Homo sapiens: one gene and its partners. The protein of the gene in region 3 binds, or shares a complex with, the protein of the main gene of each other region. Each region holds a gene or a part of one and is shown on either strand. Other genes may lie near its edges. A codon is read from its position in the direction of its gene.

Evidence for each region.
Region 1: SF3A3 (region 3) and SF3B1 share a complex: the UniProt entries of both Homo sapiens proteins name them as parts of the 17S U2 SnRNP complex.
Region 2: SF3A3 (region 3) and SF3B4 share a complex: the UniProt entries of both Homo sapiens proteins name them as parts of the 17S U2 SnRNP complex.
Region 4: the proteins of SF3A3 (region 3) and SF3A1 are in contact, whole or in part, in an NMR structure (PDB 2DT7), measured with the Homo sapiens proteins. Residues at the interface, in NP_006793.1 of Homo sapiens: Glu80 (codon at 617), Phe81 (codon at 614), Glu83 (codon at 608), Phe84 (codon at 605), Tyr85 (codon at 602), Arg87 (codon at 596), Leu88 (codon at 593), Ile91 (codon at 584), Lys92 (codon at 581), His95 (codon at 572); in NP_005868.1 of Homo sapiens: Ala161, Phe162, Asp165, Val166, Leu169, Thr170, Phe173, Asn177, Phe181, Gln184, Leu185, Lys188, Phe195.

What each region holds. Positions count from the first base shown.
Region 1 is NC_000002.12:197,397,027-197,404,048, forward strand, and holds part of SF3B1 (splicing factor 3B subunit 1), read right to left. Parts: intron 6,739-7,022; coding exon 6,559-6,738; intron 6,010-6,558; coding exon 5,923-6,009; intron 5,801-5,922; coding exon 5,530-5,800; intron 5,105-5,529; coding exon 4,959-5,104; intron 4,863-4,958; coding exon 4,716-4,862; intron 4,500-4,715; coding exon 4,374-4,499; intron 3,911-4,373; coding exon 3,689-3,910; intron 3,409-3,688; coding exon 3,226-3,408; intron 3,141-3,225; coding exon 3,029-3,140; intron 2,013-3,028; coding exon of another isoform or gene 1,943-2,012; intron 1,556-1,942; coding exon 1,435-1,555; intron 1,091-1,434; coding exon 959-1,090; intron 1-958. UniProt on the Homo sapiens protein: Component of the 17S U2 SnRNP complex of the spliceosome, a large ribonucleoprotein complex that removes introns from transcribed pre-mRNAs.
Region 2 is NC_000001.11:149,924,786-149,931,862, forward strand, and holds the start of SF3B4 (splicing factor 3B subunit 4), read right to left. Parts: upstream 3,019-7,077; 5' UTR 2,975-3,018; coding exon 2,941-2,974; intron 2,510-2,940; coding exon 2,381-2,509; intron 2,134-2,380; coding exon 1,591-2,133; intron 1,258-1,590; coding exon 1,051-1,257; intron 1-1,050. Other genes in the region: MTMR11 (myotubularin-related protein 11), read right to left, coding at 4,344-4,532, 4,838-5,131, 5,580-5,762, 6,007-6,180, 6,475-6,641. UniProt on the Homo sapiens protein: Component of the 17S U2 SnRNP complex of the spliceosome, a large ribonucleoprotein complex that removes introns from transcribed pre-mRNAs.
Region 3 is NC_000001.11:37,987,022-37,994,872, forward strand, and holds the start of SF3A3 (splicing factor 3A subunit 3), read right to left. Parts: upstream 3,002-7,851; 5' UTR 2,945-3,001; coding exon 2,849-2,944; intron 2,575-2,848; coding exon 2,527-2,574; intron 816-2,526; coding exon 763-815; intron 658-762; coding exon 552-657; intron 1-551. UniProt on the Homo sapiens protein: Component of the 17S U2 SnRNP complex of the spliceosome, a large ribonucleoprotein complex that removes introns from transcribed pre-mRNAs.
Region 4 is NC_000022.11:30,346,873-30,353,894, forward strand, and holds part of SF3A1 (splicing factor 3A subunit 1), read right to left. Parts: intron 6,201-7,022; coding exon 6,079-6,200; intron 1-6,078. UniProt on the Homo sapiens protein: Component of the 17S U2 SnRNP complex of the spliceosome, a large ribonucleoprotein complex that removes introns from transcribed pre-mRNAs.

The DNA of each region.
Region 1 (7,022 bases), on a different chromosome or scaffold from region 3:
CACATGGACATGTGGTGTCTCGTTTTCTACAATGACTGTTTTTTCCTATTTTAGTTGTGATGGAGTGGAAGCAAACCACCACAGATTATCTCACAAAGCAGCTATAATTCAGTTAAATCCGTGGAGTAATGTTAGAATAGCATTTTTGTTGTTTTTTTTAGAGACAGGGTCTCGCCCTGTCGCCCAGGTGCCCAGATGCCCAGGTTGGAGTGCAGTGGCACAATCACAGCTCACTGTAACCTTGAACTCCTGGGCTCAAACAATCCATAATAAGATTTTTAAAACATATAAAGCATTAATATGAGACTTAAATGATGTTGTGAGACTAAAAACTTGCCTTAATAGTTTAAGCAATATCCTAGAAGACCAGCACACATTTTAAATTTTTCTGAAAATGGTACTGTTTCCCTCCCTGAAAACACCTAAAGTGTAATTAAAGTAAGTCTTAAACCCTTCCATCTATTTTAATTAAGAATTTAAGACTACAGGCTGTGCGCAGTGGCTCACGCCTGTAATCTCAGCACTTTTGGAGGCCAAGATAGGTGGCTCACTTGAGGCCAGGAGTTCGAGAACAGCCTGGCCCACATGGTGAAACCTCATCTCTACTAAAAAATACAAAAATTACCTAGGCGTGATGGTGCATGCCTGTAGTCCCAGCTACTGGGGAGGCTGAGGCAGGAGAATCGCCTGCACCTGGGAGGCGGTGGTTGCAGTGAGCCGAGATTGAATCACTGCATTCCAGCCAGGGTGACAGAGCGAGACTCCGTCTCAAAAAAAAAAAAAAAGAATTTAACAATACATTCCAATAATCAGAAGGTCAGTGGTTAAATGAAGAGCTTTCTCAACTGCATTATTCAGACCATGCCTCAAAAGAGATTTCTACATGGAAGTATTTTCCAATACCACAATGCATTTATTATAAAGTAATTTTTTTTTAATGGAAGTAAATAACACTCACCCAATGGCCTTTGCAATATAACCAAATGTGTTGACTGTGGCTCTACGAATAGCCTTTTTGTGGGCTTTTAAGAGCTCTAAAAGCTCAAAGCAAATCCTCATCCACTCTCTTGCAGATACATATTCAGCTCCCCTAATTTAAAAAATACACATATTAATTATTGTGACATTAAGAAAAGTTTTAAGGATAAATTTGCAAATTCAGTTCTAAAAACATGATTAACTCATTTTAAGCATTAAATAAAACTTACTACTCTTCAGAAAGGCTGAAGAGTTAGTCTTACAGGTTTAGTCCTAAAATTACATTGCCACCCCCATTACCATCCAAATTGAAATTTGACTGAAAATATTAATACTGGATAGCCTAATCTTTTACACTTATATTAGTGACATTAAGGAAATTTTGCTAATTGAATACAAAGTGGCCAAATTTGAAAATTGATACTGCTTATAAAAATGTGTGGGTAATCTGCTTACCTGTCAGCAATACGACCAACAAGATCAATACAATTCTCTTGTACTTTTTCATGTCTGTTCTTTAAGATGGGGGTGAGTCTAGGCAGCAGATCTTTAATTGGTGGAGTCATCTTATGCATACCTATTTAATAGAAGTCAATAAACTATCAACATTTGAATTGCAACTTTTGTTCACTTTCCTTTTACTTAGCAATGTCATATATGACTATGTATAAATATAAACTTACAGCTGCCTAGGGAAAGAGAAAGCCCCAGATTCTGACCAGACTCAGAATCGTTTTTAACTTTTATTAACAATTTTTGATTATGTATAGAAATGAAAGAAATCAGTGAAGTGATTTAAAGGATGATGGATACTCAATAACAAAAAAGTTTTGTTTGATTCTGAAATATATTTGTGCACTGACATTTAAATATGGGGACAGCTTATGTTCCGGCCATACACAACAATATAAGCCAGAGGTAAACATGTAAATAAAGCAAAAATTTCCAGAAAGGGCCCCCTTACCCTTTAACTGCAAAACAAACAGATCTCCAGTCTCCCTGCAATGCAGGGCATACTTGGATGGTATTTACACCTACGAAGAGAGAAAAAAGGAGGCAGCTGGCAGGGGCTCTTGCTCTAACTAGAATCACTTGCTCTGATTCTCTCTCCATTGCTCTTCCCATGCCTCTCTGACAAACAATATGGTTTAAAACTCCCTGCAAACCAGAGCCCTACAAGTGGCCATGTAAATGATTTCTGGCAAGTAGCTATCTTCAAGTATAGAGGATAGGGTTGCATTGGAGATTATATGCAAATACAATAGTTTAAACATGTGTATCGCATAAATACCTCTTACAAAATGAGGAAAAACAAACAGTGGCTCTCTCACAGTCAGCTATTTTGACTTCTGCTAGGTTATCAGAGCCTCTAAACTCTGCAGGAGTTACATTTGGCAACAGTTATAATCAATTTAAAAAAAAGATTAAATATAAGAAACCATTTGTTTTCTTCATACTGCCCTAATGGAATAAAAACTTTGCTCTCCATATCCAAGACCATTTGTAATATAGCTGTATTACGGGTTAGAAAACTGAATGGACAGTATTTAAAACTTGGGTATGTAAATAAAGACAATAATTTGATCAGTTCACTTTTCTCTGATTATATTCCTTGAAACTGATCACAAGCAAAAAACCTGTCATAATCGCTAATTCAAGGTTTAAATATATATATATTGTTCTAAAACTAAATTAAAACTTTAGGATTGCCTTTTCACCCCGCAGCAGAACATGGCAGAATATATTTCACCTGACACACTATTTCTACTAGGGTCCTGTATTCCATGACTTCAAAGCTTTTTGAGCTGTGACTACTCCCACCTCTCATGTAGGTCCTAAACTTACCCTTTTTTTCTCTTTAAAGTAAAATATAAATGGGTTTTGGGAAACAAGACTTTTGTGACATCCCCCGACTTAACTACAATCTTGAAGTGCTTTTAAAAAGCTAACAAAAACCTCCCAACTCCTAAATAAGATTTTACTTACGAAAAAAAAAAGAAAAAGAAAGTTAAAACAAGAAAAAGTCTTATGTAACCAGCAAATTCCATACCTATGACATTTACAATGGCCTTCAGTGCTCCAAGAATGCTGCCCAATACTTCAGGGTACTCTTCACCCAAATACTCATACAATACAACACCCAAGTGTCCCATCAATTTTTCCTATAATAAAACAAATAATGTTAAAATGTTACTATTTACATTAAACTATTTGGGGAAGAAGTAAGAATTTGATGCAAAAGTTTACCTCTTGACAAGTCTTCATGACAACAGCAGTTCGAGAAATCAAGTCAGCTGCCTGTTGCCTAACTTTAGCAGATTTGTTATTTAAACGCCACAAAACTGTACCACAGATCTGAGGCAAGTATGGTTTGACTCGTTTGCCAAGAGCATTAACCACTGTGCCAAAGCCGTTCAACATTACTGAGTCCTAAAAAATAAATTTAAAAAAAAGACATATTCATTTGGTTTATGACTGCACAGTTGAAATACACTAAGAGTCAACCTTTTCTAACCACCCAAACATCTGTTGCTGTTTTTTTACATCAAATCTTAAAACTTGAGGTAGAATAATATCGTTTGGTAACCCCCTGAGCATTTTAAAAATTACTTCAAATTCAATTGCATTCTAGAAAAATTTGCTTGACAACTAATATGCTTTTCTACAAATATTAAAGTTAGTAGCAATGTGCCATAATAGTTTTCATTACCTCTGTAGTCTGTTCTTGGAAAGCATAAAGAATACCATCAATCAGTTGTTCTTCAAGTTTATGATCAATATCTGCTGCTCCCAAATTACCCATAATTTTCTCAATTGTCTCCATCACCATTTTTCTGTACTGTTCGGCTTCATCTTTCAGATCATCCACAATCCTGGATATAATTTCTGCTGCACCTACTTTGTTTGCCAACTCCACAGTAGTATCAACTAACTAAAAAGAACAGAAAAACAAAAAACCTTTTAGACTGCTTTTCCAAGGAAATAAAGCAACATCATGAAAACCAAATACTCTAAATATACTACTTATTTAGCTAATAAACATGGTAAGAATGATTCATTGCTACTTATTAAAGTTGAAGAGAAAAGTGACCAAACATCGAAAAATGAGTATAAGTTAACATGATTCAAGGTAAAACTGTGTCCATGTTTCATCTAGCCAGATAAAGCACTGAATGTACCAGACAAAAACATCAATTCACAGTTAAGTATTAATCCTCGAATCCAAAATCAAAATGGAAGTTAACTGGCTGACTAAAATCCATCTCCTTTCATAATCAAGCACATATAAACTGTGAGATAATCAAGGCAAAAAATAATATACAACATGCATTCAAGTTGACTAAAGAATGAGTTGAAAGGACTTTTGAGAATATTCTTTTACAATAAAAGCTTACCTGTCGGTAATTTCTTCTATCCAAAGCCATCCTGTGCTGCCAGAAGTGTTTAAAAAAGGGAGGAAGAATCTCTGTTTTAATGTAGTTTGCTTCTACACCATCTGTCCCACAACACTGTTTTACCACCTAAAAGGTTAAGAAATAGTAATAATAAATCAACTGACCTGAAATGAAGAGAATACTCATTGCTGATTACGTGATTTTAAAAAATAAAATTTAAAAACAAATCAAACAGTATTCGTGTAACATACAGTTTTTTTTGTTGATTTTTAAAAACACTTTAAAATTCTGTTAGAACCATGAAACATATCCAGTTTACATTAACAAATCTGGAATAATTACCTTCAGCACAATTTTTTTCATTTCCTCATCAGGAGACTGGAATTCTCGAATAAGGATTAACATCACTTCTCTAGTATAGTAGTTGGCATATTCTGCATCCATAAGAGGAATAAGATACCCAATAGCCTTCAAGAAAGCAGCCAAACCCTATTTTTAAATAAAAAATATATGTACTTTAGTAATTTAGATTTATGTCGCCTTAACTTTAATGAAGATAAATCAAAAGGTAATTGGTGGATTTACCTTTCCTCTGTGTTGGCGGATACCCTTCCATAAAGGCTTTAACACAGAATCAAAAGATTCGATACCATAAGGAGTTGCTGCTTCAGCCAAGGCAGCAATGGCCAAAGCACTGATGGTCCGAACTTTCTGCTGCTCATCCACAAGACCTACAAAACCAAACACAGGTTTTAACTATGCCCCAACATTACCTAAGTTACACAATATCATCCAGATTCTCTCAATATATCAACTATTCAGCCAAACTGCAGAATATGTTCACATTAAACAAAATTAGGTAAAAGCAAAACATGAACCATAGCCTGTCAGCAGATAATATAACAAACCCATCATAAAATCTATAGTTTGTAGAGCTATGCCTTTCCATTTATCTCCCCAAATCAGTAGCCCAAATTTTAGGACAGCTGTCCTATTAAACATGGACAGGCTGTGTGTGTACCTCTAGTCCCAACTACTAAGGAGGCTGAGCAGGAGGATCACTTGAGCCCAAAGGTTTGAGTCCAGTCTGGGCAACATAGTAAGACCCTGTCTCCTAAAGAAAAAAAAAAAAAGACAAAGTTACATTACAACTTACCATGTTCAATGATTTCAACTAAACTTCTAAGATGTGGCAAGATGGCACAGCCCATAAGAATAGCTATCTGTTGTACAATCTTAATACCAGTGTGTCTCGCTTGCCAGGACTTCTTGCTTTTGCACACAGCTTTTAAGAAGGGCAATAAAGAAGGAATGCCCAGGGCAGAGGCTACAACAGCAAAAGCTCTAGCTGTTGTGTTACGGACATACTCATCCATGTTATCTATATCAGGTCTCATGGTAGAGATCATAGTAGCCAGACCAGCAGCCTAAAATGTAAACAAAGAAAGGACAGTCATGAGTTGGTAATATTAATCTTCAACCATTTCTTTCCATAATCAATTCCATAAACAGATATAAATTTTCTTCTCTAGAAATTAAATGTAAATACCTTTGCCAAATTAGAAATGATCTCTCGGCCTTCCACTCTAGCATAGTAATCTTCATCAATCAATAGCGGTTCAATGACCACGAGGATCTGAAAAAGAGAAAAGAGAAGAAGCTACACTTTCACATCAATTACTGATGAAATGCTCATGTACAGAATTAAACATACATAAGAAATTTAGAATTATCAGGACTTTTGTTAATCAAGGGACGAACTGTTTAAGAATTTTAATTATACAAGTTCAAACTCCAGACAGAGATGAAAATTTAAGAGAGCTATTAGTGACACACTAATATTCAATATTTTTTAAAGAAATAACTTATACACCCTATGAACATACTGCACCATAATTACCATCGGTGAAAAAACTGGTTCTTAATACTAACTGGCGTTAGTTCTCATATGTTCTCATCCTAATCTAATTTTAATAAAAGCAAATGAAAAAATTAAATAATATGAACCTCTTACGGCAAAGATGACAAAAACTAACATCTGTACATCTGTATAAAACTGTATTTGTACATGTATGGTGTGTACTTGTGCAAAGGAAAAGGTCTAGGAGAATATGTAAATTTAACATTGATTAACTGAAAAAGTTAAAACTTTAAACTATCAGAAACACTATTAAGGAGAACAAACCTTATGCACATATGGACGAACTAAGTCATCAAGTTTGTACAGTATCCTATCAATAACTTTCACAAGTAAATGACGCTCTTGATCCTCAAGTGTAGGAGACATCAGCAGAGGAAGAATCTGATTAAACAAAGGACCAGCTCCAAATTCACGAGCTTTATCAGTAATCTGACGCAATGCAGCCTGGGAAAAAGAGCAGAGTAATAGGTGTGGTTTCTTTATAATCAAACATTTTGAATGAGCAAATTACTCAAAGAAGATTTTCCATACTTTAATATTTTAGTGTTTACTTTTACACACATTTTACATAGACAGCATGAGTTCATTTCCATCCAAATTACTCTGGAATTTCAATTCCTGTGATAGAAATTTTATGTTAACTCAAAAGAGTAATTTAATAGAACGAACCACAGAGGTATGTACTAAATGCCTTCATTTCCCTGAAGTATCTTCCATTTCCAAGGCAC
Region 2 (7,077 bases), about 110 Mb from region 3:
CAGGAAATGCCAGTTAACTCAGTAATCAGGAGCAAAATGCAGTTATAGAAATGAGGGGCAGGGGCCAGATCATAAAGAGCTGTGAATGCTATGGTAATGAGTTTGGGTTTTACTCTGTAGGTCAAAGGGAGCAACAGAGGAATTCTGAGCAAGTGTGTGCACATCTGTGTCTTAAAAGACCTACACTGTGAAAGTAGATCAAAGTTAGGGAAAACTGGAGTCAAAGTGGCAAGAGATTACTACAACAAATTAAGTGTAAAATAATGAGGCAATGAGAGACTGAACTAGGGCACTGGCCATGGGGAGAGATGCCACTGATACAAATAAGACTTGGTATTAAGAGTGGGGTGATAGGGAGCAGTCAAACATAGCTCTCAGATTCATGAATTAAGCACCTGAAAAAAAAGAACACTAGAAGAAGAATGGATTTGAAGGAGAGGGATAGAAAAATGACGCTATCTATTAAGCAGCAGCATCAAGGATCTGGAATATCAACAGCTACGGACTAGAGATACAGACCTAGGAGGCATCAGTATATACCCAATTAAAACTATAGATATATGCAGAAAAGAGAAACAAGCACAAAAATCTAGGCACAAGTAGACATGAGTCTATCACGGTAGCTGAGATTAAGAAGTCAGAGAGAGGGGTGGAGGATCTAGAAAAGCAAAAGCAAAAAGAGACAAGAATTTCAAACAGGAGGACACAACTAGTTTCAAGTATATCAGAGGTCAAACTAGATAAGGAGCAGAAGCGTCCCCGAGATTTGGCAATTAGGTCACCACTTTGAGGTGGAGTCAGAGAAGAGAATGGAACTAAAGATTAAAGAAATAAAAACTGGCAAGTAGAGTCTACTTGTCAGAAAAACTTAAGAAATGGATTCAGGGTGGTAGATGTTAGAGAGCATTTTGTATGTTTTTATAATAGAATGTCTGAAGGAAAGGAAAACTCTGAAACTGTTACTGTTGAGGAACAAAGGGCAGCAGGGTGAGTGGTAACAGAGATGCTCTACCAAGCTCTTCCCTCCCTTTCCCAACAAAGCACACCTACCTGGATGGGGCATCCCACCCGGTGGGAATGGGTGAGGATGTGAGTGTCCATGACCAGGATGTCCTGCCCCTGGGGTTCCTGCCGATGGGGGGCCATGTCCTGCAGCCCCAGGAGGCATAGGTGGTGGGGGCATGGCTGGGGGTATCCCAGGTGGGAGGGCTCCAGGAGGTGGCACTGGGGGTGGGAAGGAGCCAGGAGGAGGCATGCCTATAGAGGAAATGGAAAAAGGAAGAGTTAATGGTAGTGAGGAGAAAATGTCTTTAAAGAGCCTGTCCTGATCTGGCCTCTCCAGGCAGGGTGAGCTCTTTCCCCCTCCTCCCAGTGCTCTAAAATCAAAAGCAATGTTAGAAAAGTCAACCAACTTCACCCTCCTAAAGAAACCCAACAACTTTCTTCTTCACCACTACCATCACCCCTCAGTCCTCTTCCCATCAACTCACTGACTCAATGTCCCCTGTCCCCCTTTCAGACTTGTTTTCTTCTTCCTCCTGACCCTCTCCCCCAACCTTAAGACAAACATATTTTAACCAAAAGCTTTACCTGGTGGAGGAAGCCCAGACCCCAATGATGATACCACAGGATTGGGAGCAGAGGGTGGAGGAGGTGCATCTGCAAACAGCTGATGAGGGCGATCAGCCTGGGAGAGCGGGTTCTGAGCTGCCAGAAGTCGTTCGGCTGCTGAGCCATGGCGCTCACCCTTGGAGTCCTTCTTGAAGGCATAAGATACGGTGATAGGACGGTTACAGAGGTACTGCCCATTCATGGCTTCAATTGCTGCATCCGAAGCATCAAATGAAGCAAAATTAATAAAGGCATAACCTTTGGAGTTGCCTGTGTCAGGGTCCCGCATAATTTTGGGGGTTTGTAAGATGACCCCAAAGGCGCTGAAAGTATCATAAAGCAACTTCTCATCAATCTCAGGGTCCAGGTTCCCAATGAAAATGTTGGCCCCTACATCCAGGTTTTTGTTGTGAGCTGATGCTTTGTTCACCCGTATTGGCTTCCCATAGAGTTTGATCATGTTCATGATCTTAATGGCATAGTCAGCATCTTCCTCACTCAAGAATTCCACAAAGCCATAGCCTGGAAAAGTGGAGAAGAGGAGGTTAACAACGTAAGTAAAGAGACTGAAAATGGGGTAAAATTCATCTACCCTCTAATCACAAAGAACAAGAAAGAAACAACATCACTTTACTTAAGAATGGTTCCAGAAATAAACTGAAGAGAGGCTTAAAAGAAAAAAATCTTTAGGTTGCTCATGTTATTCCAAAACAGTTGTGAATACTGCTGGGACCCTCCGGGAGCAATTCGCCCCTTGTCATGTACTCACCTTGGTGCTGGCCAGTGACTCTATCCTTTGGCATGTGGGTGTTGACTACTGGTCCAGCCTGGAGAAACAGTTCCCACAGCAGCGGTTCACTAACCTTCTCATCCAGGCCCCCCACGTACACAGTGGCATCTTGAAGGGAGGGAGCAAAAAGAGCAAGCGTGAGAGTGTAACGGGAAGGAAGGAAGTGATGGAAACATGAAGATGGAACCCAACCAGGGGAACTGGGGACCGCGGTAGGGGACAGGAGCAAAAAAAAAAGTTTAAACCCTTAAACTTCTCTCTTCCCAGGACTTCGGGAATCCTCTGAAGTCTAATTTAGTATTGTGAGTGGGTTTTTTTGATTTTTTGAGTGAGAAGTCAGCAGGGGACCGGACTTAAGTATCACACCCAGAGGCCTCAGCCAGCACCCGGCCACCCCGCCCCCAACAGGCAGAGGGCCGGTCTCGCGCCCTCTGGGGAAGGGAGGAGTCCAGTCTCCCACCCCTGCAGAGACACTGCTGGCTGTAGTCGGGGCCTCCTAGCCACGCTGAGCCCATTCCAGACTTTCCCCCTCCAGTTACCCTGATTCCGCTCGGAGATCGGCCCGGCAGCCATGGCGAAAGAGATCCCGCCGTCTCCCAGCAGCGGTTCCGCCTTCTGACCTCAGCACGACTTCCACTTCCGGGGCGAAGACGGACGTAGCGGTGGGCGGGGCCGCGGAAGAGGAGGTGCCTGGAAGCGGCTGCAGCCATCTTAGGAGCCTCCGAAACTTAACCTGGGTCGGGCGGTAGAGTCCTCGGCTCGCGTCCTGAGGTGCCGCTGCTAGTTGTCTTAGCGAGGAGGGCGGAACGGAAACGCTCAGGCCCTCTTAATGCACTGCTAGACTTGAAAGAATCACACTGCTCTCAAAAGTGTAAATTCGAAAGCTAAAAGAACAAAAATTTCAGTTTTAATATATTTTGTGGACAGTGATTCTTCTTCTGTTGTCCAGAGAAGGATGTGCTGAAGAGTTCCCCCCAACCCGAGGACTTGGGGGCTTTCAGGCGCAGAGGGAGCCTTCCCTCTCGCCTGCAGCCTTCTTGCAGATTTGGCCTCACAACCCTGATTTGGGCTGGAGGTATTTGGTTTTCCCTCAGGGGAGGAGACTGCGAAATGTCTGAGCTTAGAGTGACGTCTGCGCTCACCTCGTCCTAATTGCATGGGGAGGGTGAGGGCTGCTCCGCGTTGGTGTGTGACCACAGCTGAGGGGTGGATGGGATCGGAGCTCTAGAGTCTGGATCTCTAGAACACTCTGGCCCCATCTGCCTCTAAATGGGAGACACACACAAGAGAACCCTTTCCCCAAATTGCACTTGAATTTTGCAGAGCCTCACCAAACCCAGTTCCCCTATTTCCTTAGCAATAATATGGTGGATGCCTTCCTCTCTTGGGTCATACACCCCTTTTACCCACCACTTTCCTACCTAGGAGAATCCTTTATTCAAACACAAGAAACAATGCCAGCAATGTGTATAAATACTATGCTTTAATGAGCCCCTTAAATAGAAATTCCACTACAAAAATACAGAGGAGATAGGGTGTTTCCTGTATCCGCCTCATTCCCATAGAAAACTATAAGGGAAGAAATAGAACTTGGAATTAAAGCAGCAGCAAGGCGAGGTGAGAATGCGATTTCTAGGCCATCTTGTTGGGACTGATGAACAGCATCTCTGATCTCATGATTTAACATCTGGTTATCCAGAAGGGATGGGATTGGCCTAAAAAAACCGATCAATTTCTGGATTGTTTTTGTTTCTTAATCCTTCAAATGACAAGAAGCAAAAATATTTGTAGAAACTAAGCAAGACAAGAGTTGGAGCAGTTAACACCACTATCTGCAGCAGAAACTCAGACCTTCTTAGTGAACTTAAGGGCTGAAGTGTGAAAGCTGAGGCTGCAAGTGCAGATACAAAAAAAAAAAAAAAAGATTAGACAGAACCCTCCTCTACCCCAGATCCCCCTCTGCCCTGCCTTTGAGAATGCCAGCAATTTCAGTGGGATTGAGAATGGTATGTGGATCTCTTTTCTTGGAGTGATCCTCAGGAGATATTCTTGGTGTCCATTTCCGTAATAACTCCTGAAGATGGGATAGCTCATCCTGGAGGCCAGAGATTGTGGGAGCTGAGAGGCCCATCTGGGGAGGAGGCAAAGAGGAACAGAGAAGAATACTGTTGTAGCTCTGGCCCCCTGCTTCTCTGCTACTTCTGGTGTCTTTAATTCTGTTTCCCCTTTCAGCTATGCCCTAAATTCCACTTAATCTAAGCCACAAGCACTTTCCCGCACCTCCTACACTCCCAAACCTTGTTTGATGCCAAGAGGAGTAGAACTTCACTTCCCAGACTCCCAGAGGCTTCAGCTCCTTGCCTTTCCAGCTCCTGTTCATCTGGTTCAGCAGAGTCAAGTCCCTTGTCCCACTCCCAGTCTATTTTCCCTTCTTACCTGGACCTCAGGCCTTCCCCTCAGGTAGCAGCGTCTCCAGAGCCTGATCTGGGGTCCCAGATACCCAGGCAGCAGCAGCCCTGGAGGTAAAGGGCAAGCTCCCCAATGTGAGGGGAGACCCCATTCCTGGTCAGCCAGGCTTTCAGAGGAGATAGCAGGTCGAGGGAGCCAACGAGAAGAGACTGCCAGCAGGGAAGGACTGTCCCGCCAAGGACAGAGCTGATTCAGGGGGGTCAATGCTCCTCTAGAGAAGAGCCACACAGAACTGGGGGGTCCAGGAACCATGAAGCTTGGCTAAAAGGAAAAGAAAATCAACTGGCAACAGAGAGACCAGATAACCCTAGTTTCCCCAATCTGGATCAGGACAGGGTGTCCTGCTGCCACCCACTCACTGCACTGGTGACTAGAACTACAAGCCTCCCCATGAGAACTCTTCTACCCTCCTCATTAGGCTTCAACTAGGCCTCGGGACTGATTAAGGTTGATTTTAGGGCACCTTATGTGTGCACGAGACAGGAAGATGAGTAAACAGACTTGAGGAAGGACAAAAAGGGTGCCCTCTGTGCTATTCTAGGTCTTCTGTCTTCCTAGGGACACCCAGGGACTATAAGTGACAGCTGCAGAAGAGTAGTGGAGTAGCTTTCCCTAAGGAACTCAAGACATTTTGTCTTTCACTTCTCACTGTCTAGTAGCATGAGCCTGTGGGAACGTCAAGGGAATTTAGGAAGTTTAGACACTTCACCTGTGGTCTAGGGAGCCAGGAATCTGGACAGTGTTCTGGGTCATAGCCAGGATTCTGGAATTGTAGTATCTGTGCATTGCTATAACGTAAATCCCAGTCCCAGACAGACAGCTGCAGGTTAAAAGAGTTCCCAGCTGGAGGCTGGGAGTATCCTGGGGTGTAGACTTGTGTATAGGAGTTTAACTGGACAGAGGAAGCAAGAAAAAGGATGGTTACACACAATCCTCCCACATCTAGAGACAAATCATGAGATTCTCACCTCTTATTCTAGGAAAGATGTAGGGCAAAAGTCTCGTCCTGAAAATGAGAATAAATCTCCCCCTCCCCACTCACAGACCTCACTTCTCATAAAACAAATCAAGACCAAACTTCAGAGAGTACATCTCAATGGAAAAAAAAACACGAGTCAAAAATAGAAGTCACTGACCTGTCCGCTCTGCTTTCCGCGCTCCCAGGGGGTATTTCTCAGGAAGGTAAGGGTGTCAGGAACCCTGACACTGTCATGAAGAGCAAGAAGGAAAAACTCAGAGAATTCAAAATCAGCTGGAAACTGCTGGAGGAGCTGCCAGACACAATCAAGGAAGAGGAGAAACACCGGAGCCTGAAAAGAAATTAAGAGGTTGGAAGGGATTATTGGGACCCAAAGAGGGAGGATGACGAGATGATAAGGGAATGGGGAACACAGGGAATAGGGGGAACTTATGGAAGTCAGGGAATGAAAATCTGAATTGAGGGTAGCAGGGGCTTGTAAGGCCTCACTCATCAGGATCTTCGTCCCAGCCTAACCTCGGGGCCCTTCTGACCGGATTCACCTCCAATGGATTATACAAAATAATTTCTCATTCTCTTACTTCCTTAGTAATATGCCCCCGATGCCATCCCGAATCATTCTCACCTCTTCACTGGCCCCAGTTCCCCCAAGCCGAGTCAGGAAGGGATGTCCAGCTGCCACCCACTCTCGCTGTACTAGTGATTGGAAGCCAAACAGTGTTCGGGCTTCGGGGGCTGAAAGCAGCTGGACGAGTGAAGAGAGGAGGCCATTGAGATCACGATCACCGCGCTCTGGGTGATAAAGAGGAAGAAGGGACAAAGAAGAGGGGTCCAAGAAACTAGGGCAGAAGAGAATGAGAAGAGAAATACGGCAAGGAGAAGTGAGAGGCACAGAGGGGAAAGGTTTGGGGTAGGAGGATTGAGAAAGCACATAGAAGTGAAGAGAAAACAAAGACCTTGAATGATTCACTTCCTGGACTCCACCCGGATAGAAATACCCAGTTTCACATGTAAGGGGCAGAATCACAATTCTCAAACCAGCTTCCACACTGCCCTTCCCACCCCAACCCCAGTCTCCATCCGCTGATGGAAGGAAAGGAACAAAGGGGCTAAGACCATCCTAGTGTCAGGGACCACAAGTTGTGATGGGGAGGCAGAGGTAGCACTGAAGGATGAGAGTAGAGCTCGCAGGTAGTTCCCAGGAACAGGAGAGGAAGAAGCCTTATGG
Region 3 (7,851 bases):
GCCCTAGTACCCATACTGTGCTCAGTCACTGGCTGGGAGCTGCCCACAAAATGTGGCCTTGACTTCTTTTTTTTGAGACAAAGTCTCACTCTTGTCCCCCAGGATGGAGTGCAATGGCGCAATCTCGGCTCACTGCAACCTCCACCTCCCAGGTTCAAGTGATTCTCTTGCCTCAGCCTCCTGAGTAGTTGGGATTACAGGCACATGCCACCATGCCTGGCTAATTTTTGTATTTTTAGTAGAGGTTGAGTTTCACTATGTTGGCCAGGCTGGTCTTGAACTCCTGACCTCAGGTGATCCACCCACCTCAGCCTCCCAAAGTGCTGGGATTACAGGCGTGAGCCACCGTGCCCAGCCGGCCTTGGCTTAAAAGCTGAGGGAGATACTGAAAACACTGTATTGTAGGATGTCAGCTAACTATGGTCCTTGCAGCTAAATGGCAAGTTCTTTCTTGAAGTGCATTTGAATAGCACATGTCCAGTTTCCTTTATACCTTTCCTTTAGTATGCTTTAAGGATAGGTCTGGAGAAAATACTTTTCTGAGGACATACCTCATTTGGGTGCTTCCGGTGGAATTCCTTTATTTGCTTGAGTCTATTATAGAATTCAGCAAACTCATTGGGTCCTGAAATGGCATTGAGCTCCTCCTTTCGTAATCTGCAATTTCAGGAAAATTTCAAAGAAGATAGAGCACAAAGTCAGTCCTCTAACCATGGCTCCTCAGAAGCACTAACTCCTGGATTAGCTGTGACTGTCACTTACCCATCCTTATCATCATACAAATCCCTCAGGTTCCCACTGACCTCCATATACCTCTGAAAGGCAAATACAAAACCATCAGAATGATGCAATTTGCACAACTGTAGAGCTAAGCAAACAACAAGGGTTCTCCAGTCAAAGCCCAGGGCAACCTCAAGAGACATGGATATGAGATAGTCTTAACAGTTCTGTGCTTCCTAGTACCTTTAACAGCCCTGATTCCTGGTTAGTTTTTTAATAGCCCTTTAACAGCCTTGATTCCTGTTTAGTTTTTTAAGCAGGTCGATTGGAAGATTACCTAAATGATACATTTAAGGGGTGGCTCCTATCTTTACATACCACCGATGCCTAACTTCCCCTGTAACAGACTCACCCTCTTTGGCCAAACACTAGTTCCCACCTAACATCCTCAAAGATAAAGATGATATTCACTATTTCAAAACGCTTGACTGAGGAGTAGGCAGGCTAAATAAACATTACATAGGCTTCCTTTGTAGTCAAAGTATACTAATTCAGGATGGTACAGGTACATAGTCCCTCCTCCAAAACTTTTGGGACCAGATTTGTTTCAGAATTTGGAATGTTTAAGTTCAAAAGAGGTATCATATATTATGTAACATCCCTAGTGGAATCTGGAGCACACAGTTCTGCAGTAAACCTCATACCTTATTTACCAAGTGGGATAAATTAAAGACCATAAAAAGCCTATCACAGGTTCGGGCCAGGTTTTACTGTCAAGTGAGATCAGGTCAGATTTTGACACCAAATAATCACCCAAGGGGAAAAAAAGAAAATCCTTGGTTTTCAGAGTATTTTGGGGCTGAGGGCTTGTAATCTGATAATCTCCTGCAAATCAGAAGGTCCAAGTAGGTCTTTTATTCCTTTTTAAACAGGTTTCAAACATACACAAGAGTAAGGAACGTAGTAAAATGAACCTCCATTTATTCATCACCCAGTTTAAATAGCATCTTGTTTTTCTTTTAATAAACTGAACTATTACCAGACAAATGCAGTTTAGTAGTCCAAAACGCTTTAAAGTAGTATCCTGGGAGAAAAACACTAACATACGGGGTGTGTTGTGTGTGTGTGTGTGTGTGTGTATATATATATATATATTTTTTTTTTCATTTAAGGGAAGGATTGTAGCTATGCACCTGAGTCATGGACTCTTCATAACTATTGTTTGCACATCCAAGGGATACAGGATGCTGTAAGAATGGGCACGTGTAAGCCGGCCGCGGTGGCTCAAGCCTGTAATCTCAGCACTTTGGGAGGCCGAGGTAGGTGGATCACGAGGTCAGGAGTTCGAGACCAGCCTGACCAACATGTTTAGTAGAAACTCCGTCTCTACTAAAAATACAAAAATTAGCTGAGCGTGGTGGCGAGCGCCTGTAGTCCCAACTACTCCGGAGGCTGAGGCAGGAGAATCGCTTGAACCCAGGAGGCGGAGGTTGCAGTGAGCCGAGACCGCGCCACTGCACTCCAGCCTAGGCAACAGAGCGAGACTCCGTCCAAAAGAAGAAGAAGAAGAAAAAAAAAAAGGGCACCTTTCTGATTAATGAAGAATGCCCAAGAGTTCCCCATTCAGAGAACTGAGGAAGCACCCTCACGTTCGGCAGCCTGTGGACATCTGTCCAGGCAGAGAGCCCGCGACTGGCCAATCCGGTTACCTTTGGCCAGGGACTCATGCTGAGACACCGCACTTCACTTCCCCTCTCTTTTCCCGCCCTCGCCAACCCAAAGAGAGGCAGACAGCTGGGCACTCACATCTTGCATGGCCCGAGTGCGGTGATCAGAATTGATCTGGTCCCGGAGCTGAAAAAACAAACGGTGACACAAACGCCGTTAGTTTGCGTTCTGGAGTAGAAAAGGCCGCCCGAGGGCGGAGCTTACCCGCTCAGCTTTTACCAGCTGAGGCAGAAAGGCCTCTGGGGCTCCGGACCCCGGGAGGAGGTTACCAAGACCGGAGCTCGGAGAGGGAGCCCGGAGGAAGGCAGGGAGGTTCTGAGGGCCAAAGCAAGCTCTCAGAGGTCAAACACGGGATAGAGGCTCGTGCTCCTGCCGCAGCCTCTGCTCAGGCCCCACTCACCGTGGACTTCTTGGTGAGCATCTCTTTAGCCATGACGTCCATGAGCCGTTCCTTCTCCTCATGATAGCGCCGCTGCTGCTCCAGTATTGTCTCCATCTTCCCTTAGTCGCGGCTTCTCAATTCAGACCACCAACACGGCCGGAAGCAACTCCTGCCGCCCAGCGCGCCTGAGTCCCCACGTTGCGCATCAGGCTGCACCAAAGTTCCGCGAGTGCCGGAAGTGCCCCGGGACTTAAGAAAACAGGAGCACCACAAGGAAGGCCAGTCCATGTTATGGAGATGGCAACAGTGCCACCTGCTGGTGGGAGGTGTGGTGGAGCGATGCCGAGAGGTTCGCAGATGCCTCCAGGGGGCATAGGAAAACCCAAGAACCTGAGGTTCAGCGGACGGCTTCCTGCGGCTTGCTGGGGCCGGCTTGGCGGGCAGGTATCCTGTGTGGACTGCGCGAGCAGTTGGAGTGCGGATGGGAGTTGGGAAACCGGAACTTGAGGACGCAGCTTTCAGCATAAATTATGAGAACGTTTTCTCTTTCTCTGGACCTCAGCGTCTTTCTCAGGAAAATGGGAATAGTGGGGTTTTGCTGGTGGTGTTTTTAAAAAAATTCACATGTGAGGCCGGGCGCGGTAGCTCACGCCTGTAATCCCAACACTTTGGGAGGCCGAGGCGGGCGGATCACTTGAGGTCAGAGGTTCGAGACGACCAGGCTGGCTAACATGGTGAAACCCCGTCTCTACTAAAAACAAACAAACAAAAATTAGCCGGGCGTGATGGCAGGCGCCTGTAGTCCCAGCTACTCCGGAGGCTGAGGCAGGAGAATCGCTTGAACCCGGGAAGCAGAGGTTGCCGTCAGCTGAGATCGTGCCACTGCACTCCAGCCTGGGCGACAGAATGAGACTCAGTCTCAAAAAAAAAAAAAAAAAAGAAATTCACGTGTAGAAACGACTTGTCTATCGGCAGCGAATATGTTAAATAAAATACTGTGCATCCAACGAGATCAGGAGATTGAGACCATCCTGTCTAACACGGTGAAACCCCGTCTCTACTAAAACTGCAAAAAATTAGCCGGGCATGGTGGCGCGCGCCTGTAGTCACAGCTACTCGGGAGGCTGAGGCAGGAGAATCACTTGAACCCAGGAGGCAGAGGTTGCAGTGAGCTGAGATCATGCCACTGCATTCCAGCTTGGGCGACAGAGAGAGACTCCGTCTCAAAAAAAAGTAAAATAAAATAAAATAAAATACTGTGCATCCAAGCAGTGGAAGACCAGCTGTGAAATGACATACAGCCTTAAAAAAAATTCTGTCTATATATCTCCACTTGTAGGTAGAGAAATGCAAACATGTCCATGTGTTCATATGTTCACAGCGGCATTATTCATAATAGACAAAAACTGGATGCAGCCCAAGAGTCCATTAACTGGCAAATGGATAAAGTGTGGTATATCTATACAGTACAATGGAACATTATTCTGCAATAAATGAATACTACAATGATGAACCATGAAAGCATCATGCTAAGTGAAAGAAGCTAGACAGAAAAACAACAGTGTATGTCCAGATAAAACGTCCAGAACGGTGTTAAAAGAAAAACACTGGTGCTTGCTATGGCAGCACATATACTAAAATTGGAACCATACAGAGAAGATTAGCATGGCCCCTGCAAAAAGAAAAAAAAAAAAAAACACCGGTTATTACAGCTTGGTCTTTGCCTTATTTGAACACGGTTTGCATAGTTTGCCATGTTTGATTGGCCAAAACTCGGTGATTGGCAAAGAGTAGGCTATGGTCTGTTTACAACTCCATTTAGGTTATAGTTCACAATGTACAGAGAAACCTTTAGGCTAAATTTAAAATATGTAAGGAGGCAGCTTTAGGCTACAATTGAGTTAACAAAGGCAAATCTATGGAGGCAGAAATATGAGTGGTTGCTTGTGACCGCAGGTGAGATTGGAAGTGATTACAAATGCGCACAAGGAATCCATTTTGGATGGGTAGAAATGTTCTAAAATTGGATTGTGGTGATAGTTGCATAACTCTATTCATTTTATTAAAATTAATTGCTTTGTACTGTTAAAAATGGGTGAATTTTATGGTATATAAATTACACTTCAATAAAACTGTTAAAAACTCTGTATGAACTCATATGGAGAGATGGCCACACAAACTGAAAAAAGCTAGATGCACAAGTGTGTATAAAAATAGATGTGCAAAGAGATTATTTCTGTAAGGATATCCAAGTAACAGTAAACAGTGGTTGTTCCTGAGCAGACAGCCTTGGAGATCTGATATGGGAGATTTTTCTTTGTATACACCCCAAGCACAGCATAAAAAGTTATTCTTAAACATACTTTTTCAATTTAAAAATTAATTTAAAACTGAAAATACATATGTGCACATTTATGTTTAACAAAAAAGAACGAGGAGGACATAATGCATCACATTATTAGTAATTTACCTATTGTTCACTTTTTTCTTTTTTTTCTTTTTCTTTTTTTTTTTGATAGGGTCTCTCTCTGTTGCCCCAGGCTGGAGTGCAGTGGCATAATCATGGCTCACTGCAGCCTCCACCCCTGTGGCCCCCACAGGTGGGTGCCACCACCCTGGTTAATTTTTTATTTTTTTCCCACGCAACAAAAGCCACATTTAAAGTTTTGTTTTGGGAGTCTCGCTCTGTCGCCAGGCTGGAGTGCAGTGGCGCGATCTCAGCTCACGGCAACCTCTACCTCCTGTGTTCAAGCGATTCTCCTGCCTCAGCCTCCTGAGTAGCTGGGATTACAGGTGACTGCCACCACACCTGGCTAGTTTTTGTATTTTTAGTAGAGACGGGCTTTCACTATGTTGGCCAGGCTGGTCCTGAACTCCTGACCTCCGGGTGATCTGCCTGCCTTGGCCTCCCAAAATGCTGGGATTACAGGTGTGAGCCACCGCACACCAAAAAACTGCGAGGTTTTTTGTTTTTTGTTTTTTTTTGAGACAGGGTCTTTCTGTGTCATCCAAGCTGGAGTGCAGTGGCACGATCTTGGCTCACTGCAACCTCTACCTCCTGGGTTCAAGCAATTCTGCCTCAGTCTCCCTAGTAGCTGGGATTACAGGTGCGTGGCACCATGCCCAGCTAATTTTTGTATTTTTAGCAGAGATGGGGTTTTGCTATGTTGGCCAGGCTGGTCTTGAACTCCTGCCCTCAGGGTGATCCGCCCACCTTGGCCTCCCAAAATGCTGGAATTACAGGCATGAGCTACCACACCAAGCCAAGGTTTTTCTTTTTTTTTTGAGACAGGGTCTTGCCAAGCTGGAGTACAGTGGCACAATCTTGGCTCACTGCAGCCTCGACCTCCTGGGCTAAAGCTATCCTCCCACTTCAGCCTCCTGAGTAGCTGGGACTATAGATGTGCGCCACTACACCCTGCTAATTTTTGTATTTTTTGTAGAGATGGGGTTTTTTGCCGTGTTGCCCAGGCTGGTCTCAAACTCCTGGACTCAAGCGATCTTCCTGCCTTGGCCTCCCAAAATGCTGGGATTATAGGCATGAGCCACCAGACCCGCTGTAATTTTTTAAAAATTTTTACTAGAGATGAGGTCTCACAGTGGTGCCCAGGCTTGTCTGCAACTCCTGAGCTCAAGCAATCCTCCTGCCTTGGCCTCCCAAAGTGCTGGGATTATAGGCGTGAGCCACCGCACCCAGCCCAATTTTTCTACAGTAAACATGCATTACTTTTTGTTTTTAAAAGTTTGAAAGCAGGCTGGGTGCAGTGGCTCACGCCTGTAATCCCAGCACTTTGGGAGGCCAAGCTGGGAATTTCGCTTAAAGCCAGGAGTTCTAGAACAGTCTGGGCAACATAGCGAGACCTCATCTCTACAAAAAATAAGAAAATTAGCTGGGCTTGCTGGCATTTGCCCGTACTCCCAGCTACCTGGGAGGCTGAGGCGGGAGGATCACTTGAGCCCAGGGGTTTGAGGTTACAGTGAGCTATAATCTTCAAGCCTGGGTGACACCCTGTCTCAAAAAAGAAAAAAAAAGTTTGAAAAAACGGAGGCTGGGCATGGTGGCTCACGCCTGTAATCCCAGCACTTTGGGAGGCCGAGGCGGCAGATCACGAGGTCAAGAGATCAAGACCATCCTGGCCAACATGGTGAAACCCCTGTCTCTACTAAAAATACAACAAAATTAGCTGGGCATGGTGGCGCACGCCTGTAGTCCCAGCTACTTGAGAGGCTGAGGCAGGAGAATCACTTGAACCCGGCAGGTGGAGGTTGTAGTGAGCCGAGATCGCGCCACTGCACTCCAGCCTGGCGATAGAGTGAGACTCTGTCTCAATAAATAAATAAATATAAAATGGAAATAGTGACCTGTGTTTTGCCCACTCATGAGGGTGTTATGGGGATCTTATTTGTATATCGGAAATTTAAGCAGGACTGCCAAGCTTAGGGAAAGGACCCAGTCACAACTCATCTGGGGCTTTTCCTGGGACATTAGGAAAGAGGTAAAGTAGAAATCTCCATTCAGGGAGTGGGGAGACTCAGCAAATGTTTTTTGTTTTGTTTTGTTTTTTGGGGGGTATAAACTTGGAGAGCTACTGTATTTCTTGAATACGAGATGCCATCAAATGTAAAACTCAGTATTATTTTATGCTTTACTAAGGAAGAGAGAAAAAATTGTCAATTAAACAATGACACACCTTTGATTATATGTCTGGGTTTCTTTTTTTTTAAGACGGAGTTTTGCTCTTGTCCCCCAGGCTGGACTGCAGTGGTGCTATCTCGGCTCACTGCAACTTCCATCTCCGGATTCAAGTAATTCTCCTGCCTCAACCTCCGGAGTAGCTGGGATTACAGATGCCTGCCACCACACCCAGCTAATTTTTGTATTTTTAGTAGAGGCGAGGCTTCACCATGTTGTCCAGGCTGGTCTCAAACTCCTGACCTCAGGTGATCCACCCGCCTCGGCCTCCCAAAGTGCTGGGATGACAGGCGTGAGCCACTGCGCCTGGCCTTGATTATATGTCTGG
Region 4 (7,022 bases), on a different chromosome or scaffold from region 3:
AAAAAATCAGTATGCCTTTACCAACAAAAGGTAGTCAAAAGTGAACATAATGAAAACAAAGTAATACTGTCAAAGTTTAGCTGGAAGTTTGCTGAGACTAATTCTCTTAGTTCAAAGGGGTAGCAAGTGCTGGAGAGGTGTAAAAGGTACATGAGCACCAAACCTAGACTTTGTCCTCTGAGTAACAAGAAAGACTGAAAGACATGAAAATTTAGTTGATTTGAGCCTGGGCAACAAGAAAAGACCCTAACTCTACAAAAAAATATAAAAATAAATTAACTGGGCATGGTGGTGTGTGCCTCTAGTCCCAGCTACTCAGGAGGCTGAGGTGGGAGGATCACTTGTGCCCAGGAGTCTGAGGCTGCAGTGGGCTAGAATCGTGTCACCGTATTCCAGCCTGGAAAACAGAGCAAGACCCTGTCTTTAAGAAACAAACAAACAAACAAAAAACAAATAGTTGGTTTAACGCCTTGTCCAAGTACTCCCTAAAACCACCCCCATTATACTGGTGAGGCCCACACAGGAAACATCCTCAGCAAAAACCCAGACTCGTACAGCTGTATAAGGCACCTTCAGATGACAGGGGTGTGGTAAGATCAGCAGGGAGGTCTCCAACCACTGTCTGTACCTGGGATGGTTCCCCAGATATGCCCCATGTCCCCAGCAAGCCTTCAAAACCTCAGGATAATGAAAAAATGTCCCTATAATGATGTTTAGGGAACCCTGATTTTTAAAATGTCCCAACAGTAATATTCAAAGTGCCACACTTATATACAACACCTGTGTCAGTCAGAAAGTACACGGACCTTAAAGACACAAGATATGAACACGTTCAAGTCTCAGGTTCACTGCTGACTCACTCTGACCCACAGCAAGTTACCAAACTACTCTTTGCTTCCATTTCCCCATGTGTAAAATGCAGCTAACACCAGTTTCCCTTTCTACCTTGAAACATTATTGAGGAGATGCCAAAGTGTTTTTGTTTTATAGACAGGGTCTCACTCTGTCACCCAGGCTGGAGTGCAGTGGTACAATCTCAGCTCACTGCAACCTCCACCTCCTGGGCTCAAGGGATCCTCCCACCTCAGCCTCCTGAGTAGCTGGGACTACAGGCATATACCACCATGCTCGGCTAATTTTTTTTTTACATTTTGTAGAGACGGGGTTTCACCATGTTGCTCAGGCTGGTCTCAAACTCCTGCGCTTAAGCGCCTTGGCCTCCCAAAGTGATAGGATTATAGGCGTGAGCCACTGAACCCAGCCCTCAAAGTCTTTTCAAATCGTACAGTGGCCTGCAAATGCAAGGGGCTAGGAGGGGTTGTTCCATAAACATTGTCTGTGGGGCCTTCCATTGCTCCTCTGGCGAGAACCTTGTACTTAGAACTGCCCCAAACACACCAAGGCATGGCCCCGGCATCTGGTGCCAGCTAGCCAGCTCCACTCTTCAGACTTTCATATCCCTGGCCTGTGAGTTTAAGAGGGGGTGGGAGCCCGGCACAGTGGCGCACACTTGTAGTCCCAGCTACTCAGGAGGCTGAGGCGAGAGGATCACTTGAGCCCAGAAGATCATACCCAAGCCTGGGCAACAAAATGAAATTTCACCTCTGAAAACAAAAATTTTTTAAATTTTTTTTAAGACAGATGGCAGGAGACAGGGTACAGGCAGTGCTGTGCCCCAGATCAACCACCACAGCAATTATGTGCCACACTAGTGATCGACACCCAGGCTGGCTCCTCAGCAAGTCGTGGTCATACCCTGCCGTGTAACTAACACCATGAGGTCTCAATTTGACAGTATATTAGTCTAACTGGAACCTCATGCTTTGGAAAAAAAATTCTCCCTACTCCTTAAATAATGCAAACCACACATAAGAATGAAGGTGAATGCACACTTAAATCCTGCTAAACTAGGCCACTATACCCAGCAAATGCCTCGGGCAGACAAAGGGCTCCTGGAAAAAGGGGCCCTGGTTGTCTCCTGTACCACTGCCTAAGCCATAACTTTACCCCATCTGGGAACAATCTGAAAAATAAAACAATGAGAAGGCTTGGCATGTTCATTCCAAGCTATTCAGTTGCTTTAAATTAGCTTAACGTTAATTTTAGAATCATACTCTCCACCAGAAGGAATAGATTTCAACAGAAAAAGACATGATTCTGACTCAACCCAGCTGGTGGGACTTTTTAAGGGTAATTTCCACTTCAGTTTCTTGACAGGAACATGCAGGAAATGAAAAGGCCTAACCTAGCGAAAAAACTTTTGGAAAACCGCTCAGTTGTGCATTTCTACTGCATGCTCCATAAATATACGTGAACCCAGGAGAAGTGAAGCACAGAGTTCTGCATGCCTGCTTTAACTCGGATATTGGTCTCTTTGTTGCAATGTAAACGATAAGTTCACAGATTTTATTTATTTATTTACTTTTGAGGCGGAGTCTCGCTCCGTCACCCAGGTGGGAGTGCAGTGGCACAATCTTGGCTCACTGCAACCTCTGCCTCCCGGGTTCAAACGATTCTTCTGCCTCAGCCTCCCAAGTAGCTGGGACTACAGGCGCCCGCCACCACACCTGGCTAATTTTTTGTATTTTTAGTAGAGACGAGGTTTCACTATGCTGGCCAGGCTGGTCTTGAACTCCTGACCTCAGGTGATCTGCCCACCTCAGTTTCCCAAAGTGCTGGGATTACAGGTGTAAGCCACCACACTGGCTCACAGATTTTAGAAATGCCTACAAAAGCAATCACCATAGCTAAAAATCAATCTAGGGATGTGCATGGTTTTGGATTTTTTTCTTTCTTTTTTTTTTTTTTTTTGAGATAGGGTCTTGCTCTATCGCCCCAGGCTGGAGTACGCTGGCATGATCATACCCTTGACCTCTCAGGCTCAAGTGATCCTCCCAAGTGGCTAGAAATACAGATATGCGCCACCATGCCCAGCTAATTTTTTTATTTTTTGTAGAGACAGGGGTCTCACTATATTGCCTACACTGGTGTCCAAGTCCTGGGTTCAAGCGATCCTCCCACCCTGGCCTCCCAAAGTGCTGGGATTACAGGCGTGAGCCACCTAACCTGGTCATATATATTTAAAGGGACCTTGGATATCCTCTTATTTCTTTAGCAGCAGAGGATGGCACAAAATTATTGGAAAGCTACTTGGCAAAATGTTTAAGAAATCTTTTAAGGATGCTCTTTTAGCCAATAATGAGCCACACAGAATTTTCTTCTAAGGAAACGATCTAAAAGGGAAAGAAAATGCTCAGAGATTTCCCCACAGCTTAATTTGCCAAAATGAAATGTTGGGAACAGGCCAGGTGCGGTGGTCACTGCCTGTAATCCCAGCCACCTTGTGGTGGCTGAGACATGAGGATCACTTGAGGCCAGGAGTTCAAGACCAACCTGAGCAACACAGAAAGACCCCATCTATACAAAAAAACTAAAAAAAATAAAAAAAATAAAAAAAAAATTAGCTGGGTGTGGTGGCAGGCACCTGTAGTCCTAGCTACTCAGGAAGCTGAGGTGGGAGGATAACTTGAGCCCAGGAGTTCAAGGCTGCAGTGAGCTGTTATCATGCCACTGCACTCCTGCCTGCGTGTCAGAACGAGACTCTGTCTCTAAAAAAGAAATGTTGGAAACCTCCTCCTCTAAGGAAAATACAGAAATGGTGGCCAAGTCAAGGAAAGCCTTTCACCTCTACATGGTGCATCCCCTTAATAAAGGACCACAGGGCATTATGAAGACCATGGAGCAAAATGGAAAAATGCTTACAACACAGAGTGGAATATCTTTACTAGTATTACAAGGATCTAAAAAAAGGATTCCAAGGACAGAAGGAAACAGAAAAATGTGAAAACAGCTGGTAGACACTACTCTGGTAATGAGAATATGGTGATTCTTCACCCAACTCCCCTTTTCTGTATATTCTGTTTTTAAAGTATCAGGGGAAAAGGGGAGGCATGAACACTGCTAAGAGCCATTAAACATTTATCTTAAACACAACACTGTCTAAATCTGACATGACCCAATCAACATCATCACAATGTTCAATCAAGCACAGAGAAGCTTTCAACCTAATACTCAAAGGTAATCAAAGCCCTTGAAATGTAATGAGATGAATCTGCAGAGCTGACATAGTGAAAGTCTAACCAAAGTAGGCTGGTGCCGTGGCTCACGCCTGTAATCCCAGCACTTTGGGAGGCCCAGGTCGGGGGATCATTAAGTCAAGAGACTGAGACCAGCCTGGCCAACACGGTGAAACCACGTCTCTACTAAAAATACAAAAATTACCTGGGCGTGGTGGCGCACGCCTGTTGTCCCAGCTACTCGGGAGGCTGAGGCAGGAGAATCACTTGAACCCAGGAGGCAGAGGTTGCAGTGAGTTGAGACTGCACCACTGCACTCCAGCCTGGCAACAGAGTGAGACTCCATGTCATTTAAAAAAAAAAAAAAGAAAGTCTAACCAAAGTAATCTTTATGTCTAATTTTATTAGGTTGGGAAAGGAAGGACCATCCGTTAAATGATGCATACTGACTGAGACACTGCCTCAGGGGGGTGACGTGGTCCCTGGAGAACACATGCTGATTGGGCCTGCTTCCACACATGAAGGAACTGTCCAGAAATCCAGACTGATTGTGAAATCTCATTTTTACTTGTTTTGTTTTTTTTGAGACAGGGTCTCACTGTCACCCAGGCTAGAGTCCATGGCTCACTATAGCTTCAACCTTCTGGGCCCAACCGATCCTCTTGCCTCAGCCTCCTAAGTAGCTGGGATCACAGGCCCATGCCACCACAGCCAGATAACTTTTTATTTTTTGTAGACAGGGTCTCACTATGTTGCCCAGGCTAGTCTCAAATTCCTGAGTTCAAGTGATCTTCCCACCTTGGGCTCCCAAAGTGCTAGGATTACAAGCAAGAGCCACAGCACCTGACCTCCTCATTTTTAAATAGTAGCAACAAATTTGAGTTTCGAAAAAATTACTGTGAGGACAAACAAAACATCTGTAGGCTGGACATGGACTGAGGGCTGCCAAAGGAATACCTTAAATACCCTAGAGAATGTACTGACCTTTGGAGTCAAGGGGCCAGTAAAAAAATTCCATCTAAGGATGTGAGGGTAAGTACAGTGGGGAGAGACAGGGGGAACTCGGAGCAATTCCCATTCCATCTGAGGTGGCGGCTAGCACCTGCGTGGAACTGTGGGGAGAGACAGGAGGAACCCGGAGCAATTCCCATTCCATCTGAGGTGGCGGCTAGCACCTGCATGGAACTGTAGGAAGAGAGAGGATCTCTGACCAATGCCCATTCCATCTGAGAAGCCAGCTAGCACCTGCACAGGACTGTGGGGAGAGACAGGAGGAACTCAGAGCAATACCCATTCCATCTGAGGAGACGGCTAGCACCTGCATGGAACTGTGGGGAGAGAGAGGATCTCTGACCAATGCCCATTCCATCTGAGAAGCCAGCTAGCACCTGCACAGAACTGTGGGGAGAGACAGGAGGAACTCGGAACAATGCCCATTCTATCTGAGGTGGCGGCTAGCACCTGCATGGAACTGTGAGGAGAGACAGGAGGAACTCGGAGCAATGCCCATGCCATCTGAGGAGGTGACTAGCACCCGCGTGGAACTGAACTGCATGCAGCCCCATGACCTCACTCCCGCCTCACAACAACTCTGAGATGGCATTTTTTCCATTTTGCAGATGGGTCATTTGAGGCTCTTGGAATGTGGTCTTTGTACAATGAGAATAATAAACTCCCCTTTTTATCTTCCTCAGGCCAGCAGCTCAGGCACAGACACACACCATCTGTGATGAAGCAGCTTTCCAGGCATTTCCTCAGGCCAGTTTTAGAAGCAGAGGCTCCTGGTGACTGTGGGGCTAAGTGTGATTCTCACTTTGGCCACTGCTATGCTGTGTCAGGGACACCAGTCCTACCTATTGCCTACCCCAGTGCCATGTTGTGGTTTTTTATGAACTAAAAGGCCCAAGCCAACAACGTCTCTTTAAAAACCCTTGTGCTGATTCAGTGCTGAAGTCTCTTCATGCTGAAACCCACCTCTGACCCACCCAAGTAGCTCTGTTACCTGGCCACAAAGCTGGCAGTCTTGTCAACAATATTTCTGACCTCTGGAGGAGGGTAAATAATCCCCACAACTGGCTTAGAAGGTGCAGAATCCTCCTTTGAAGATGCTTCTTCTTCTGTGGGCTGTGCAAACAGGAAAAGAAATAAGGTTTTAAAGTCCCTGGTTCAGAGCAGGTTCTCCACTGTAAAACTCCTCTAGGATATCATTCAGAGTAGACTTTCATTCACAGACTTCCCTCAGGTTAGAACCCTCTACTTCAGAAAAGCAGTTCTCTTAAGTTCACTGCACCTGCAGGGGCTGCTCCTGGGGACCCAGGGAGAAGAGCAGCTTCCCTGGCTCCTCTCTCACTGGACTATCTCAGTGAGACCAGGAATCTGCATTTTTACTATGGTATGAGACCAGCACTTCTCCTGTTGTCCTTCCCAGTTTCTCCCCAACCTCCCCTTTTCCCTAGTTTATAAGACAGGAGAAAAGGGAGAAAGCAAAAAGTTGGAAAGAAACAGAAGTAAGATAAATAGCTAGACGACCTTGGTGCCACCACCTGGCCCTGGTGGTTAAAATAATAATAATATTAACCCCTGACCAAAACTACTGGTGTTATCTGTAAATTCCAGACATTGTATGAGAAAGCACTGTAAAACTTTTTGTTCTGTTAGCTGATGTATGTAGCCCCCAGTCACGTTCCTCACGCTTACTTGATCTATTATGACTCTTTCACATAGACCTTTAGAGTTGTAAGCCCTTTAAAGGGCTAGGAATTTCTTTTTCGGGGAGCTCGGCTCTTAAGACACGAGTCTGCCGACGCTCCCGGATGAATAAAAAACCTCTTCCTTCTTTAATCCGGTGTCTGAGGAGTTTTGTCTGCGACTCGTCCTGCTACATTACCAAATGCCCAGGTGATTCAGATGCAGGGACTCCGACTACATTCTGAGAAACCATGTTCC